Linked DNA regions of Homo sapiens. The protein of the gene in region 1 interacts with the protein of each later gene in a biochemical or structural test. Each region holds a gene or a part of one and is shown in the gene's direction. Other genes may lie near its edges.

Region 1 (7,637 bases):
TTTGAGACAGGGATCTCACTCTGTTTCTTAGGCTGGTGTACTGTGGCATGATCATGGCTCACTGCAGCCTCAACCTCCCAGGCTTAAGCCATCCTCCCACCTCAGCCTCTCAAGTAGCTGGGACTACAGACATGCACCACCACACCTGGCTAACTTTTATTTTTGTAGAGACAGGATCTCGCTATGTTGCCCAGGCTGGTCTTGAACTCTTGGACTCAAGTGATCCTCTCACCACAGCCTCCCAAAGTGCTGGGATTACAGGCATGAGACACAGTACCTAGCCTCCTTAGTAATTCTTTACCAAAGGTCTTTAGTGACAGTAAATTTTCTAGATCCCATTTGTCTGAAATGTCTTTATTTTGCACTCAACCTTTGTTTTTTGTTTTTGTTTTTGTTTTTTATAGAGATCAGTTTTCATTATGTTGCCCAGATTGGAGTGCAGTGGTTATTCACAGGTGTGATCATCGCATACTACTGCCTAGAACTCCTGAACTAAACAATCCTCCTGCTCCAGCCTCCCAAGTTGCTGAGACTACAGGCACATGCCACCACACCCAGCTTAGTTTGCACTCAATCTTAAATGATCATTTGACATTACAGAATTCTAAAAGCCCCCAAATACAATATTGAAAACCAGATACAACCCAAATGTCTATCAACAGCTGAATGGATAAATCCATTGTTATATAGTCATACAATGAAATACTCAGCAATAAAAAAGAATCAACTACTGGTATACACAATAACATGGATGAATTACAGAAACACTATGCTGAGTGAAAGAAGCTAGACATGAGTACATACTGTATTATTTCTTTTTTCTTTTTTTTTTTTTTAAGACGTGGTCTCGCTCTGTCACCCAGGCTGGAGTGCAGTGGCATGATCATGGCTCACTGCAGCCTCAACCTCCCAGGCTCAAGTGATCCTCCCACCTCAGCCTCCCAAGTAGCTGGGACTACTGGCGCATGCCACCATGCCTGGCTAATTTTTATATATTTTGTAGAGATGGGGTTTTGTTATGTTGCCCAGGCTGGTCTCAAACTCCTGGGCTCAAGTGATCCTGCCTCCTCAACCTCCCAAAGTGCTGGGATTACAGGTATGAGCCTCTGTACCTGGCCTGTATTATTTATTTTACTTGAAATTTTAGGAGAGATGAAGTTAATCTATAACTACTGGTTATCTATTGTTGTATCTGGATGACTTTGAGGCATCCAGATGCAGCAATGGATAAGTCAAGACTGCAGTCTCACCTGAAGGCTGGACTGAGGGTCTGTTTCCAAGCTCACTCGTGTAGTTGTTGGCAGGACTCAGTGCCTCACACGTTGTCAGACTGAGTTCCTTAATTCTTCACTGGGTGTAGGCCAGAGGCCTCCTTCACTCAGTTCCTTGCCACAGTGTTCTCTTCAAAGGACAGCTTATAACGTACAGCTAGGTTCCTACAGAGTGAATGATTGAGAGAGAGCAAGATAGAAGCCAGCCTTTTGTTAACCTAATCCTGAAAGTGACATCCATCATTTTTGTCATACTCGTTTCATTAGAACTCACTAAGTCCAGCCCACATTCAAAGGTTTGAAGACCAGAAAATGGGATCACTGGACATCTTACAGGTCAAACTTAATTTTAATAGTAATGTTTTACATGTAACAATGCAGAATGACCATGAATAGTATGCATTTTTAGAAGGCTCATGCACTAAAACTCTCATCTTTTGGTTAATGCCTAAAATTCCAGGGAGCTTTGACCTTTCAGTTTAAGGATTTAATTAGTAAAATATAGATTATTTAAGGTAAATTTCCTTTTGGGCCTGAGTAATAGTACTGGTTACCGTTAAAAAATGTGGGGGTTGGGGCATTGACCCCCCTGCACAGTTGAAAATCCACAGATAACTTTTGACTACCCCAAAACTTAACTACTAATAGCCTACTATTGACCAGAAGCCTTGCAGATAACTAGTTGATTAATACATATTTTATATGTTGTATATATTATATATTGCATTCTTACAATAAACGAGAAAAGAAAATTTTAAGAGAATCATAAGGAAGAGAAGTGGAAGTGGATCATCATAAAGGTCTTCATCCTTGTCTTCATGTTAAGTAAGCTGAGGAGGAAGAGGAGGGGTTGGTCTTTCTGTCCAGGGGTGGTGGAGGCAGAAGAAAATCACTGCATAAGTGAAACTTCCCAGTTCAAACCCGTGTTGTTCAAGGGTCAACTGTATTGTATATACTATATATACCTAAAATTAAATATACTGTATTTGCCCTAAATCCACTTCAGATAAAGAAGATAGGCAAAGAATATGGCAAACCTGGTAAGCCCACGTAAAAACACTTCTTTTTTTTTTGGCCTATGGTAGATTTGTTGATAGACCAGCTCAATCTTCTCATATTATAACTATGTACTGACAATTTTAGTATCTTACGTTTGTTTCTTGACCTTAGATTGTATATGAGTTGGTTTTCTCCTTTTTTTTTTTCTTTACTTGAAAGGGCCATGCTTGCAAGTGAGTATTAGACATTGCATGATTTTCTAATATTCTCTCCAGTTTTCTACACCTACCTCTGTCATCTTAATTTCTATTTTCATGCATTTGCTCAAATTAAAGATGTGGAGATTAAATGAATGAATACATGTAAAGCACGTAGATTAGTATCCAGCAGATATTAAGTGGCCAATACTATTATGATTGATGCTGTTGTTCTTTGATGCTTTGATCTCCACAACCTACATCCAATTGGTTCACTTTCCTTCTACACGATTTGTCTCCTCCTCAAATCTAACCTTTCTCTTCTGTTCATCTTCTTACATAGTCTCACTGCTACTTGGCCCTACTAAAATTTATTTTTGCTTCTTACCACATTTGCCACAAATGTTGATATAAACCATTTCCATTCTTCTGAGATGTATCACCTACTTACAGAGGTTATTATCTACCCAAAATCTTCTCTTCTTCACTCCACTTGAACATACTTGCATTCACATTCTCCTCTCTGTTTCAGATATCAACTCTTTCCTCCTGGCTCAAAGGAAGGTGCATTCTTTTCTGACTACACCCACATCTCTGTTTATTATCCAGTTCAGTTAGCATTAGGCTCGGCTGCAAATAGAAAAATCCTTAATTAACAGTGGCTTTTAACAAGGTGTTTCCATCAGGTGAAAAATCTAGAAGGCGGCTCTTGAGGGCTCATAGGGCAGCTCCACAAGTTGATTTTTCCATCTCACTGCTATGCCATCTCTAAAGCATGCCTTCATCCTTATGGCACAAACTTGCCGCCTGAAAACCAGCGAACCCAACTTTCCAGGAAGTAAAATGCACTTTAAAAGATCAGGAGGGCTGGGCGAGGTCGTTTAGGCCTATAATCCCAGCACTGTAATCCCAGCACTTTGAGAGGCCGAGGCGGGTGAATCACCTGAAGGCAGGAGTTCAAGACCAGCCTGCCCAACATGGTGAAACCCCGTCTCTACTAAAAATACAAAAAAAAAATTAGCCAGGAATGGTGGCGGGCGCCTGTAATCTCAGCTACTCAGGAGGCTGAAGCAGGAGAATCGCTTGAACCCGGGAGGCGGAGGTTGCAGTGACCCAAGATTGCGCCATTGCACTCCACCCTGGGCGACAGAGCAAGACTCCGTCTCCAAAAAAAAAAGTCAGGGACGGCCTCCTCTCTTTTAGATGCCGTCCCTAAAGACATGCACACAATTTATACCTAATTGGCTAAAACGTAGTCACATAGCCACATTTGGCTGCAAGAGAGACTATAAAATAAGCTATTTTAAGCTGGGAAGCAGTGTGTCCATCGACACAGTGTTCTGTGACTTTAAATAAAAAATTGGTTTTCTGTCATGAAGTAGAGACTAGGTTTGGTGAGGCACTCATTCATCCTTTCTCACCTCCAACAATAATTTGCGTTTACTTATTTTTTCAACCCCTTCCCATCCCCTCAAACATAGTTCTCTACCTTTTATCTCAAAAGATAACCAAAGAAACCTCTTGATTCTGGTCATACTCTTCCTTTCACTGTGACAATAACAACAACAACAACAACAACAAAACCTTATTCTTCTCCTTTACAATTTCTTTAACGTTTTTTTCTTTTCTGCTATTCCCAATCCCTAAACACCATCTCACGTTTAGATTATACAGCTTTCCACTTCGTCTCCCAGTTCCTGCGAGCACCTTATATCCCTTTTACCCCAACCAAGTCCTTAAATTTTATTTATAGTTAGCGTCACAATACACGAGTAAATATTGTCTTTCTTTAAAAAGCACAAATATCTCAAACTTCTCCCTTGGACATACCAATGGCTACATTAAGCTCTTTAGAACGTAGAAATGAAAGAACGCCTCCCGGGTTCAAACGATTCTACTAAACAAATGAAAGAACGAATGGCATGTAAGTGCGTTTTTACAATTCATGTGAACGGGTACGCTAAGACCCTCTGTCACTGCGGGCTTCGCCGCCCCGATGAAGGTCTTTCCCAGCAAAAATCTGGCTTGCCTTCTACAGCTCTGAAATGCACACTTAAACCCAGGCCCTTTGTCTCTGACCGCCCTGGCCTGAACTGGCTGGGCGGAGATTCTCGCGAATTCTCGGATCTGCGCGGAAAACGCGCTCGAGGCAGTTCTCTGACGCATTTCCGGAGCGCCAGGGAAGAGGGAAGTCGTGGTGGTCGCGAGGGAGCCGGAAAGATGGTGGTTACCAGATCTGCACGGGCTAAGGCCAGCATCCAAGCCGCGTCGGCTGAAAGTTCCGGGCAAAAGGTAGGAAATCCAGTCTTCCCTACTTCTCGCCGCTTCGCAGAGCCGCGCTCAGGCAGGCGGGGCGGCGCAAGGGTCCGGTTAAGGGTGAGGACCTGCCGACAGAGAGGACCCGAGCTTGCCGCGCGCTTGGGTCTCCCAGGCCCCGTGCTAAGCCTGTCACGGAAACTGTTTAGCCTTCACCACTGTCTCTTAAGGCAATTTTTAGTATGGAAGAGAGGTTAGATAACTTTATTTGGGTCGTTCAACTCCTTAATGCAGAAGCACAGTTCGAACTTTTAAACCTTACTGTTAACACGGTACCAAGGAGGGTTAATTTCGGCCACCATGCACAAGCCCCATTTAGGGGGGCTGGAAAAAAAGCTTCGTTTTCACGTGGGGAGGCTGGCAGCTGTCCAGCATCACCTCCTTAAGGCGTGAGGAGGGCTGTGGTGTCGTCGCCTGGTGACTCTTAGTGGCGTTAGTCGGCTGTCTCATTCTGACTCAGCGATGCAGGGAACGGAGCGGCGGCGATTTTTTCCTGTACGTAAAGGTAAGGGCGGCGACTGATTCCATCAGTGTGTTCCTAAACACATCGGTGTTCAGAGTTAATATTCCCTTTCTCCCCTCTTCTATAGGTGGGTCAGAATGTTGGTCTACCCATTATATTTGACTTTAAACAGAAAAATTTTAATCGTTCTGCTTCTGAAGTTACATCTAGGAAGGATGAGGCTAGTGAAGTAAATGCAGGGTTGGCTCCAGTGTTTAAATTTTGATTTTTTTGTTTGTTTGTTTTTGATTCGGAGTCTTGCTCTGTCGCCCAGGCTAGAGTGCAGTGGCGCAGCCTCGGCTCACTGCAACTTCTGCCTCCCGGATTCCAACAATTCTTCTGCCTCAGGCTCCTGAGTAGTTGGGATTACAGGTGCGCACCAACACGCCCCGCTAATTTTTTTACTTTGAGTAGAGATGGGGTTTCACTATGTTGGCCAAGCTGTCTCGAACTCCTGACCTCGTGATCCACCTGCCTCGGCCTCCCAGAGTGCTGGGATTACAGCCGTAAGCCACCGCGCCCGGCCAAATTTTGATTTTTTAAAAATCATGAGTTGGGCAGGTTTTTTTGTTTTTTGTTTTAAAGGTAATCTTGTTTACTGGGTTTTAGCTTTTGGGGTCAGTATTTCATTTGCTTTGCCCTTGTTCCAGCCCTACCTAAATTACAGTGTGTTTTCTCTGGTTTGCAGAGTTTTGCTGCTAATGGGATTCAAGCGCATCCAGAAAGTAGTACTGGATCTGATGCCCGAACTACTGCTGAATCACAGACCACTGGGAAGCAAAGTTTAATCCCTAGAACTCCTAAAGCTAGAAAGAGGAAGAGCAGAACTACAGGCTCACTACCAAAGGGGACTGAACCATCTACGGATGGAGAAACCTCTGAGGCAGAGTCAAATTATTCTGTGTCTGAGCACCATGATACCATTTTAAGGGTAACTAGGAGAAGGCAGATCTTAATTGCATGCTCCCCAGTGTCCAGTGTTAGGAAAAAGCCGAAAGTAACTCCAACAAAGGAGTCTTACACTGAAGAAATAGTGTCTGAAGCAGAATCTCATGTTTCAGGTATTTCTAGAATTGTGCTTCCTACAGAAAAAACTACAGGAGCCAGAAGAAGTAAGGCTAAATCTCTGACAGATCCAAGCCAAGAATCTCATACAGAAGCTATATCTGATGCTGAGACATCAAGCTCAGACATTTCATTCTCTGGAATTGCAACTAGAAGAACCAGGAGTATGCAGAGGAAATTAAAGGCACAAACTGAAAAGAAAGATAGTAAGATTGTACCAGGAAATGAGAAACAGATCGTGGGTACACCTGTGAATTCAGAGGATTCAGATACCAGACAAACTTCCCATTTACAAGCAAGATCTCTTTCTGAGATAAATAAGCCAAATTTCTATAATAATGACTTTGATGATGATTTCTCCCACAGAAGTTCAGAAAATATATTAACAGTGCACGAACAGGCCAATGTTGAATCTCTTAAAGAAACAAAACAGAATTGTAAGGATTTGGATGAAGATGCCAATGGAATAACAGATGAGGGGAAAGAAATTAATGAGAAAAGTTCTCAGCTGAAGAATCTTTCTGAACTTCAGGACACTAGCCTTCAACAGTTAGTTTCTCAGAGACATTCAACCCCCCAAAATAAAAATGCTGTATCAGTGCACTCTAATCTGAACTCTGAGGCTGTAATGAAATCATTAACTCAAACATTTGCAACTGTGGAAGTAGGCAGATGGAATAACAACAAAAAGAGCCCCATAAAAGCAAGTGACTTGACAAAGTTTGGTGATTGTGGTGGTAGTGATGATGAAGAAGAGTCCACAGTTATAAGTGTCAGTGAAGACATGAACAGTGAAGGGAATGTAGATTTTGAATGTGATACCAAACTATACACGTCTGCGCCCAACACATCTCAGGGTAAAGATAATTCTGTCTTACTAGTTCTCAGCAGTGATGAAAGCCAACAGTCTGAAAACAGTGAGAATGAAGAGGATACTTTATGTTTTGTTGAAAATAGTGGCCAAAGGGAGTCATTAAGTGGAGACACAGGAAGTCTGTCATGTGACAATGCATTGTTTGTAATTGACACAACTCCTGGAATGAGTGCTGATAAAAATTTTTACTTGGAAGAGGAAGACAAGGCAAGTGAGGTTGCCATTGAGGAAGAAAAAGAAGAGGAAGAGGATGAAAAAAGTGAAGAAGATTCATCAGACCATGACGAAAATGAAGATGAGTTTAGTGATGAAGAAGACTTCCTAAATAGCACAAAGGCTAAACTGTAAGTTTTTCCTTTATTTTTATAAGTTTTTGATACATGTATTTCAAGTGGTTAATTTACCATAAAAAT
Region 2 (7,656 bases), on another chromosome or scaffold:
ATAAAAATAGTGTTTGCTGATGGGAAGAGGGCTACTTCTCCACTGAACCATGGAAAACCTAAAATCCTCCCCATTGTTTCCTGCCCCATACACTTGTACTCAATAAAGATCTCTAAGAATGATCATGTGGAGACTAAATATTACCCAAAATGGAAAAAATTTAAAAACAATCCCGAACTAAGGGGAGAAGTGGCTGCCTGGGAGCATCAGCATGGAAACCAGTGAGCAGCTGTGTTCTTTGTTTCCTCATAGCCATCATCACCTGAACAGGCAGGAGCATTGGTCACATCTGCCAGCATCATGGGAGTGGCAGCATGAAAGGGAGGACAGAACAGTGGCCCAGCTCCCATGTGGACCAGGCAGGCAGTTGTCATGCTATCTTATTCATCACTTACAATGTGAAGAAGTTGGCACTATGACTGCTATTTTACATGTTGGAAACTGCGAACCCCCCATGGGGTAAGGGAATGGCCCAAGCTCATACATCTGGTAAGTAGCAGGTGGTTCAGGCTTGTGTAGCTCCTGAGGCACCAATACTTCCAGTTGCATTCAAAAGGGTGCTGTAGGTGTTCTACAAAACAAACAAAGAAAAGGTAAGCATGTTGAGAATACAGTGGGCGAACACAGTTTATTACAAACCTTTAATGTTCTAACACACATTGTATAGAGTTTCTCTGGTTTCCCTACACTTAATTCACTGCAGAATTTTTGTTTTGCCTGGAACACTTCATGGGACCAGTGTTCCCATAAATCATTGCAGGACACCCCTCTGGTCTCATTAGAGTCTTAGGTCTGTTTTATTTTTTTGTCTTGTTTTGTTTTCTTTTTTGAGACAGGGTCTCACTCTGTTACCCAGGCTGGAGAGCAGTGGCATGGACAGGGCTCTTTGCAGCCCCGATCTACTGGGCTCAAGTGATCCTCCTGTGTCAGCTCTTCCTAAGCGGGCTGGCACCACTTTTGGAAGAGTCTAGGGAAAGCAAAAGACCATTGGGAAGGATTGTGACAGGATTACCTACAAAGTATATGGGAACACAGGGAAGGGAAGGGGGAACAAGGAGAAACCTGCACTATTACAATAGCAATGGACAGTTCTTGGAACTTGCATGCCAGTGGTCTTTGAAGTGCTTTAGTCCTCATAGCCACCTGTAAGATAGAAATCATTCTAACCCCCATTGCAGAGATAAGGGAAATAAAGCAAAGAAAGGTTAGGTTTTGAATTCAGGTAGTCTGGCTCCTAACACCTGTATTCTATTTGTTCATATTGAAGAGTCTTAAATGGAGCAGAATTCTCCACCAAGTAGCATAAACAAATAAACTTTTGTTAAGACACTGAGATTTGGAGATTATTGACCAATCTAGTAGATCAAGGAGAGTGCTCAACATCTGATGCAAAGAGCTTCAGAAAATCATAGTATAGTAAGAAGAAATCAATTCCTGCTATTGGCAGCAATGCCAAAGAGCATAAGAGAACTCTGTATAGTGTTTTATTATTTTCAAGGCACTTCATGAGCACGATTTAATTTAGTTCCTGAGAAGGCGATGAGACATCTGTGCTCTCAGACCTTATTTCACACCTCCCTTCACCACAGGGGATTGGTTTAACAGACATTAATTGCTGAAAAAGCAAAAAGAGGACATTGAGGTAACTCAGAGAAAGAAACTGCAAGAAGCACACTACACCACTGGGCTGGAGCAACAAAGGGATGGAGCTGGGATTGTTGAAAACTGGAAGTTTGGAGCAGGGCTCCCATGGAGCTGGAACACAGATCTTTAATAAGGAAGTGCTGCCTGTCGTCCCTGGTGCCATAGAATTTCATAGGGAAACCTCTGCAGAGCTGGGGCTCAGACTTTTGAGGAGATGTCACCTAAGTGGTATTGATACCTCTGAAGGGTACAGTAAGACTGGGTCTGGTTGTGCAGAAAAGAAAAAAAGAAAAAGAAAAAAGCTAAAGACTAGAACCAATCACTGCTGTCTGAGTAGAGAACCATTACTGCGAAGACCCTGACCTTTGTAGCAGCAAGCAAACAAAAAAGGTCACCTCTTTCCTCTTATCTAGACTTTCAGTCTCCCTCTGGTATCACCATTGGCAGAGCCTGACATAAAGTCAGCTGGCAAATGAGAAAGAGAATTTGCTCAGTCCCAGCCTCAACCTCATGGAATCCATCAGAAAAAAGGTAGATTTGCAGCTGAGAGATGATAGCCTGATAACCAGACAGGCATCAGTACATTTGAAATTTTTGTTGGTAATGTTTTCAATACCAGTGACTCAAAGCAAATTAAAATGTGACATTGTTTAATATGATATTTTGATGATTTAGTAGTTTCACAAAACATATATATCCGATTTCAGATTGAACTGGAATGTCTCTAAAAACAAAACATAAATTACTACGAACTGACATTTATTGAAAGTGCTACCTTTGTGTCAAGCACTCTGCCCAGCAGGTTATGTGGGCTATCTCAGTCCTCATTTTACAGATGGGGTAAAGCTGAGGCTTAAAGAAGTTAAGCAACTTGCTTTGAAGCTTCAGAGCAATAGAGACAGAATTTTTATGGGCAGCCTGACGAAGCCTGAGCTGTTAGCCACATCTCAGTACTACCTCCCCATTCCCTTTACTGCTTAGGTGGTGCACCTTTACTATTAGGTGGCTATACCTTGGGAACGAACACAACAATCCCAGACTCTTGCTAGAATCATTTACTTAACTCCCTGCTGCAGCACCATTTGGTAGCTAAGACTGCATTCTAACATGAAGCATTCAGCTCTTCAGTAACCAAACACATAATAGTGAGGGTCAAAATAGACTCTCATCTTCCAGTTGATCTCTAGCAAACAGTCATAGCATCCGGGAATTTCAGGGCTGCATTATAGGCCCTTACCAGATGTCTGAATTCCCTTCTGTTACAGCTCAATAAACAGTTATCCAGCATCTGTTTGAATACTTTTCATGACTTGTAACACACAACTGTATAAAGCTGCTCTCTGTATATTTTTAGACAGCTGAGTTACTAAACAGGTCTTACTTGCGGAGAACTGGAATCTATTACTCTACAATTTCCACCTGAAGATTTCTGATTTTGCTTTCTTGAGCAACACAGAGTGCTTTACCCATGCCTTAAGGCAGCTGTCACATGACTCTTCCCCTAATACGGTTGTGAGGTGCTCACGTGTTTTGGAGATAGCAAAAGTCTCAAATAATATGGCACAGACGGCCAGCCATGGTGGCTCACACCTGTAATCCCAGCACTCTGAGAGGCCGAGGTGGGCCGATCACCTGAGGTCAGGAGTTCAAGACCAGCCTGACCAACATGGTGAAACCCCATCTCTACTAAAAATACAAAAATTAGCCAGGCGTGGTGGCGTGCGCCTGTAATCCCAGCTATTCAGGAGGCTGAGGTAGCAGGATCGCTTGAACCCAGGAGGTGGAGGTTGCAGTGAGCTGAGATTGTGTCACTGCACTCTAGCCTGGGCAATAAGAGCGAAACTCCATCTCCAAAAAAAAAAAAAAGGACAAAGGGTGAGCAGAGCTCAGATTGGTTATTGGAGAAGACAATACAGAGGAAGGCTCCTTGGTGGTTAAGAGTAGTCTTTTAAAATCAGACAGATCTGAGTCCAAATCCTAGCTCAATCATTTCTCAGTTGTGAAAATTCAGTAGCTCTGTGACCTTGGGCAAATTGTTTAGCCAAATGAGAAAGGTAGGACCACCTGACAGTGGTATTGTGAGGATCCTGTCAGCTAAGGCTGGTAGGTGCTTGCCTTGGCCGTGTAGTAGCTGCTCAGGAAATGAGATCTATAGAGTGTATTGGTGAAAGACAAATTTAATTTTGCACATAAAGTTATGAAAATGTCTCCTTATGGCAGTGGTTATCATCTAAAAGTCATACCATCCCACTGAAGAAGACCTATTTTAGGGTTTATAACAGACTACTCTCTGGACAACCTTAATCCACTTAAAAAACTAATATATGCATACAGCATTTGGAATCCAAAGAACTGAATTCAAGATATGGCTTGGCCCCTTATTCTGTGATCTTGAATAACTGAGCCTTGGTTCTCTTGCTTATAAAATGTACCTATGTAAGTGAACAGGTGGTAATACCCACCATGAAATACTATGGAGCAGTTAGAAGCAACAGAGCAATTAGAATACGGATCTGGAAAACATAGTTCCAAGTGAAATAAAAAGGTGATTGGCAAAATGAGAAATGTAACAATGCCATTTATGTAAAGTCAAAACAACCACAAGCAGAATATAACACCCATGCAAATAACAGACATCCAGTACAGTGTAATGATTGTCTACAAAAGGAGGAGAATGCAAGTGAGTTGGGAGGTTTAAAGGGGATCAATAAATAAAGACCACAGAAGGGCCTCAGTACATTTAGAAATAAATAACATGCAAACAATGATGCTTCCCTACCTTCCTCACGAGGTTACTCTGAGGAGCTAATGAGATTGTGCGTATGAAAACAAAAGTTAATTGACTGTCTTCATTATGATCTCCATATTGGACAAATGAACTGAACAGAGATAAAAATTCCCCATCACACTTTGGCAGGAAGCTGTTGCCAGGGCAGCACCTGTGAAGCCCTGGCCTGGCTTCAGAGTCTGCTGGTGAGATGACATCAAAACCCTTCGTGTAGGAGGGTGGCAGTCTCCCTCCCTTCTGGAGACACCACCAGATGGGCCAGCCAGAGGCAGCAGCAGCCTCTTCCCATGGATCCACCACGAGCGTCCCACTTGAGCCCTCGGAAGAAGAGACCCCGGCAGACGGGTGCCTTGATGGCCTCCTCTCCTCAAGACATCAAATTTCAAGATTTGGTCGTCTTCATTTTGGAGAAGAAAATGGGAACCACCCGCAGAGCGTTCCTCATGGAGCTGGCCCGCAGGAAAGGGTTCAGGGTTGAAAATGAGCTCAGGTAGGACAGCATCGATCTTGCTTTGTAAATAAGCAGAGGCTTTGTGAACAGCTTCTTGGGAACCCAAGGAACCTGTGTTTTCTTCCACATGTGGAAGAGGTGATCTTCCCACTGGGAGAACAGCAGATTTGAAATCAAAGAACAACTAGTTAAGGAAAACGAGATAAGTGGGGACTGAATACAATTATATTGAAACTAGTTGACACCAAAAGATGAGATAAATTTTTTGTTTTTTGCTTTTCACTCCTATGAGATGTGTTATTTAGGGATGATAAGCAGAACACTAATTGGAAAATTTAATGCTGAACCACTCAATTCTATTCTTGACCAATTTGAACAAAGTATCACTGGGTTCAACAAAAAAGTTTTGGCTACTTTGATGCAGAAAGATGATTTGGTTGCTTGGTTCTTACCTATACATCTGGGCGTGCTAAGGCAGCTAGCATCTGTGGTGGGCGAGGATGACTAGCCAGCTTACCACAGGCACCCAGATGTGGCCTTGACCACATTTTTCCAAAGAGTGGTCCTAGTGGGGTTCTTAGAAAGAGAGATGCTAGGTAAAGATGTATTCACTGTTAAGACAGCTCTGTCCAGGGATGACAGACATCACACTGAGTGAGATGTAATCAGAGCCCAGGCAAGGAGGCGATAGAAGCATTTGGACCACCTAGATTGGTTCACTCACTAATCCACTCACCTTGAACAGCAATTATTCTTGTTGTTTTTCTAACTTCTGTGTAAGCTCTTCACTGATCTCAAATAGATGAAGAGAAAACAAGCAAAATCCAGAAACAAATGGTATTAGAACCTTGACATAAGTGATGGTTCTGGATTAAACTGTTAAGGGGCTTGCAATGAAGGAGTAATGATTTATGCAGTTGACCGCTTTGACTGTGCAAGAAATAAATTGACCACAAATTTTCAGGCAAAACTATAAAAATTTTATGTGAAAGGACATTTTGATTGTATAAATAGTCTTTGATATTTGAAAATAAAACTGACAAGCATGTCATGCAGAAGAAATGTCAGCTTCCAAGTGTTGAGGAGACATATTTCAAAAGTCAATTTTCAGATATGTTAATGTTCGCAACACCCTGATTCATATGACATTGACTTTTCATTCATTTTTTGCTAAAATGCCCCATTCAGAAATTCCTGAATTTCCTATGGCCCTTCTTCCACCTGATTTCTCTTTGCAAGGTCTCCTTTTCTCTCTTGCTGCCTCTCTGTAACCTCCTACAGCCACTCTGAATCTCATTTTCTAACATCCTTTCCAAGAAAATCCTAGATTTCATCTAACTGTTAAGCCTGCCTGATATTACAGACTTACATAGAAGGCTAGAGTTGGAGAAGACAGGAAGATTATATAGGTAAAGAAGCCAAAAAAATAGATTTTTTTTTTTTTTTTTTTGAGACAGAGTCTTGCTCTGTTGCCCGGGTTGGAGTGCAGTGGCACAATCTCGGCTCACTGCAACCTCCGCCTCCCAGGTGCAAGTGATTCTCCTGCCTCAGCCTCCCAAGTAGCTGGGACTACGGACACGCGCCACCACAATCAGCTAATTTTTGTGTTTTTAGTAGAGACGGGGTTTCACTATGTTGACCAGGATGGTCTCTATCTCCTGACTTTGTAATCCGCCTGCCTTGGCCTCCCAAAGTGCTGGGATTACAGGCATGAGCCACCACGTCTGGCCAAAAATAGATTTTTTGGAAAAGAAATTAAAAGCCTTAGCAAATATGGAACTGCTTTTCATGGTAAAGAAATTTGACAAGGGTTAGGCAGGAAGGAAAGAACCAGAAGCACCACTTACTGGAAAGCTCTCCATTGAAACGTCCAAGCTTCCAGCAAGGACCCGCTGATTTATTATAGACACAGCAATGAATACATACAAGGCGGCTGAGGCAGGCACTCAGGGAGATGATGGGAGGTAAGTTTCTTCTGTTGGCAGGACAGCTGAAGAGGCAGCTACATGCCCCAGATGCCTGCTGCCAGGGACCAAGCCCAGCTGCTCAGGCGGCGGAGGAAGCTCACTGGTGCATGGTGAGCAAACTGCCGCTGTGCATGTGATGATGGCAAAGTTCCCAGGCTGGTAGCTCAGAAGACACATTAAATACAAATGTGCTCTATGGCGCAAAAATAAACCACAGGAAGTAGAAGTCCTAGGTCTCAAACGGAATTTCTGTGCATAGATATATAGACTTTAATTGGATAGAGAAATAAAAATTATTGTAGGGGACAAATCTCTAGATACGAAATTTAGAAACCTCAAATCCTGGCTCTGAGCCTCCCCAGCCATGGGGTATGGGACAAGGTCCCCTCTCTCCCGACTGATTTTAATATCCTGATAAATGGCCTATCTGATGTGATCACCAAATGAGATAATGCATGTCAATGTGCTTTGATAAATTAAAACAGTTAGACAAATGTAAAGTGTAATTATTTTCTTGTGAATTGCTGGATCCATTGACCTTTACAGCAAAACCCTAAGGAATGGGCTCTCCCTCCACAATATGAACAAGGTCAAATGATATCAACAAATAGAACAAAGACAGGAAAGAAACCCGTCAACATGTTATAACTGGTTTTTTGGGAGTGGGGGTTGGTAGGGAGAGATTATGGCTGTTTTTATTTTCTGGGTTTTCCAGTTTTTTTTTTTTTTTTTTTTTTTTTTTTTTTGAGACGGAGTCTCGCTCTGTCCCAGGCTGGAGTGCAGTGGCACGATCTCGGCTCACTGCA

Evidence for each region. The genes of interacting proteins can lie anywhere in the genome.
Region 2: the proteins of DNTTIP2 (region 1) and DNTT form a complex in vitro, tested with the Homo sapiens proteins (one study listed by BioGRID).

Annotation. Positions count from the first base shown.
Region 1 is NC_000001.11:93,876,199-93,883,835, reverse strand, and holds the start of DNTTIP2 (deoxynucleotidyltransferase terminal-interacting protein 2), read left to right. Parts: upstream 1-4,629; 5' UTR 4,630-4,687; coding exon 4,688-4,759; intron 4,760-5,973; coding exon 5,974-7,568; intron 7,569-7,637. UniProt on the Homo sapiens protein: Regulates the transcriptional activity of DNTT and ESR1. May function as a chromatin remodeling protein. Part of the small subunit (SSU) processome, first precursor of the small eukaryotic ribosomal subunit.
Region 2 is NC_000010.11:96,299,779-96,307,434, forward strand, and holds the start of DNTT (DNA nucleotidylexotransferase), read left to right. Parts: upstream 1-4,655; 5' UTR 4,656-4,719; coding exon 4,720-4,922; intron 4,923-7,656. UniProt on the Homo sapiens protein: Template-independent DNA polymerase which catalyzes the random addition of deoxynucleoside 5'-triphosphate to the 3'-end of a DNA initiator.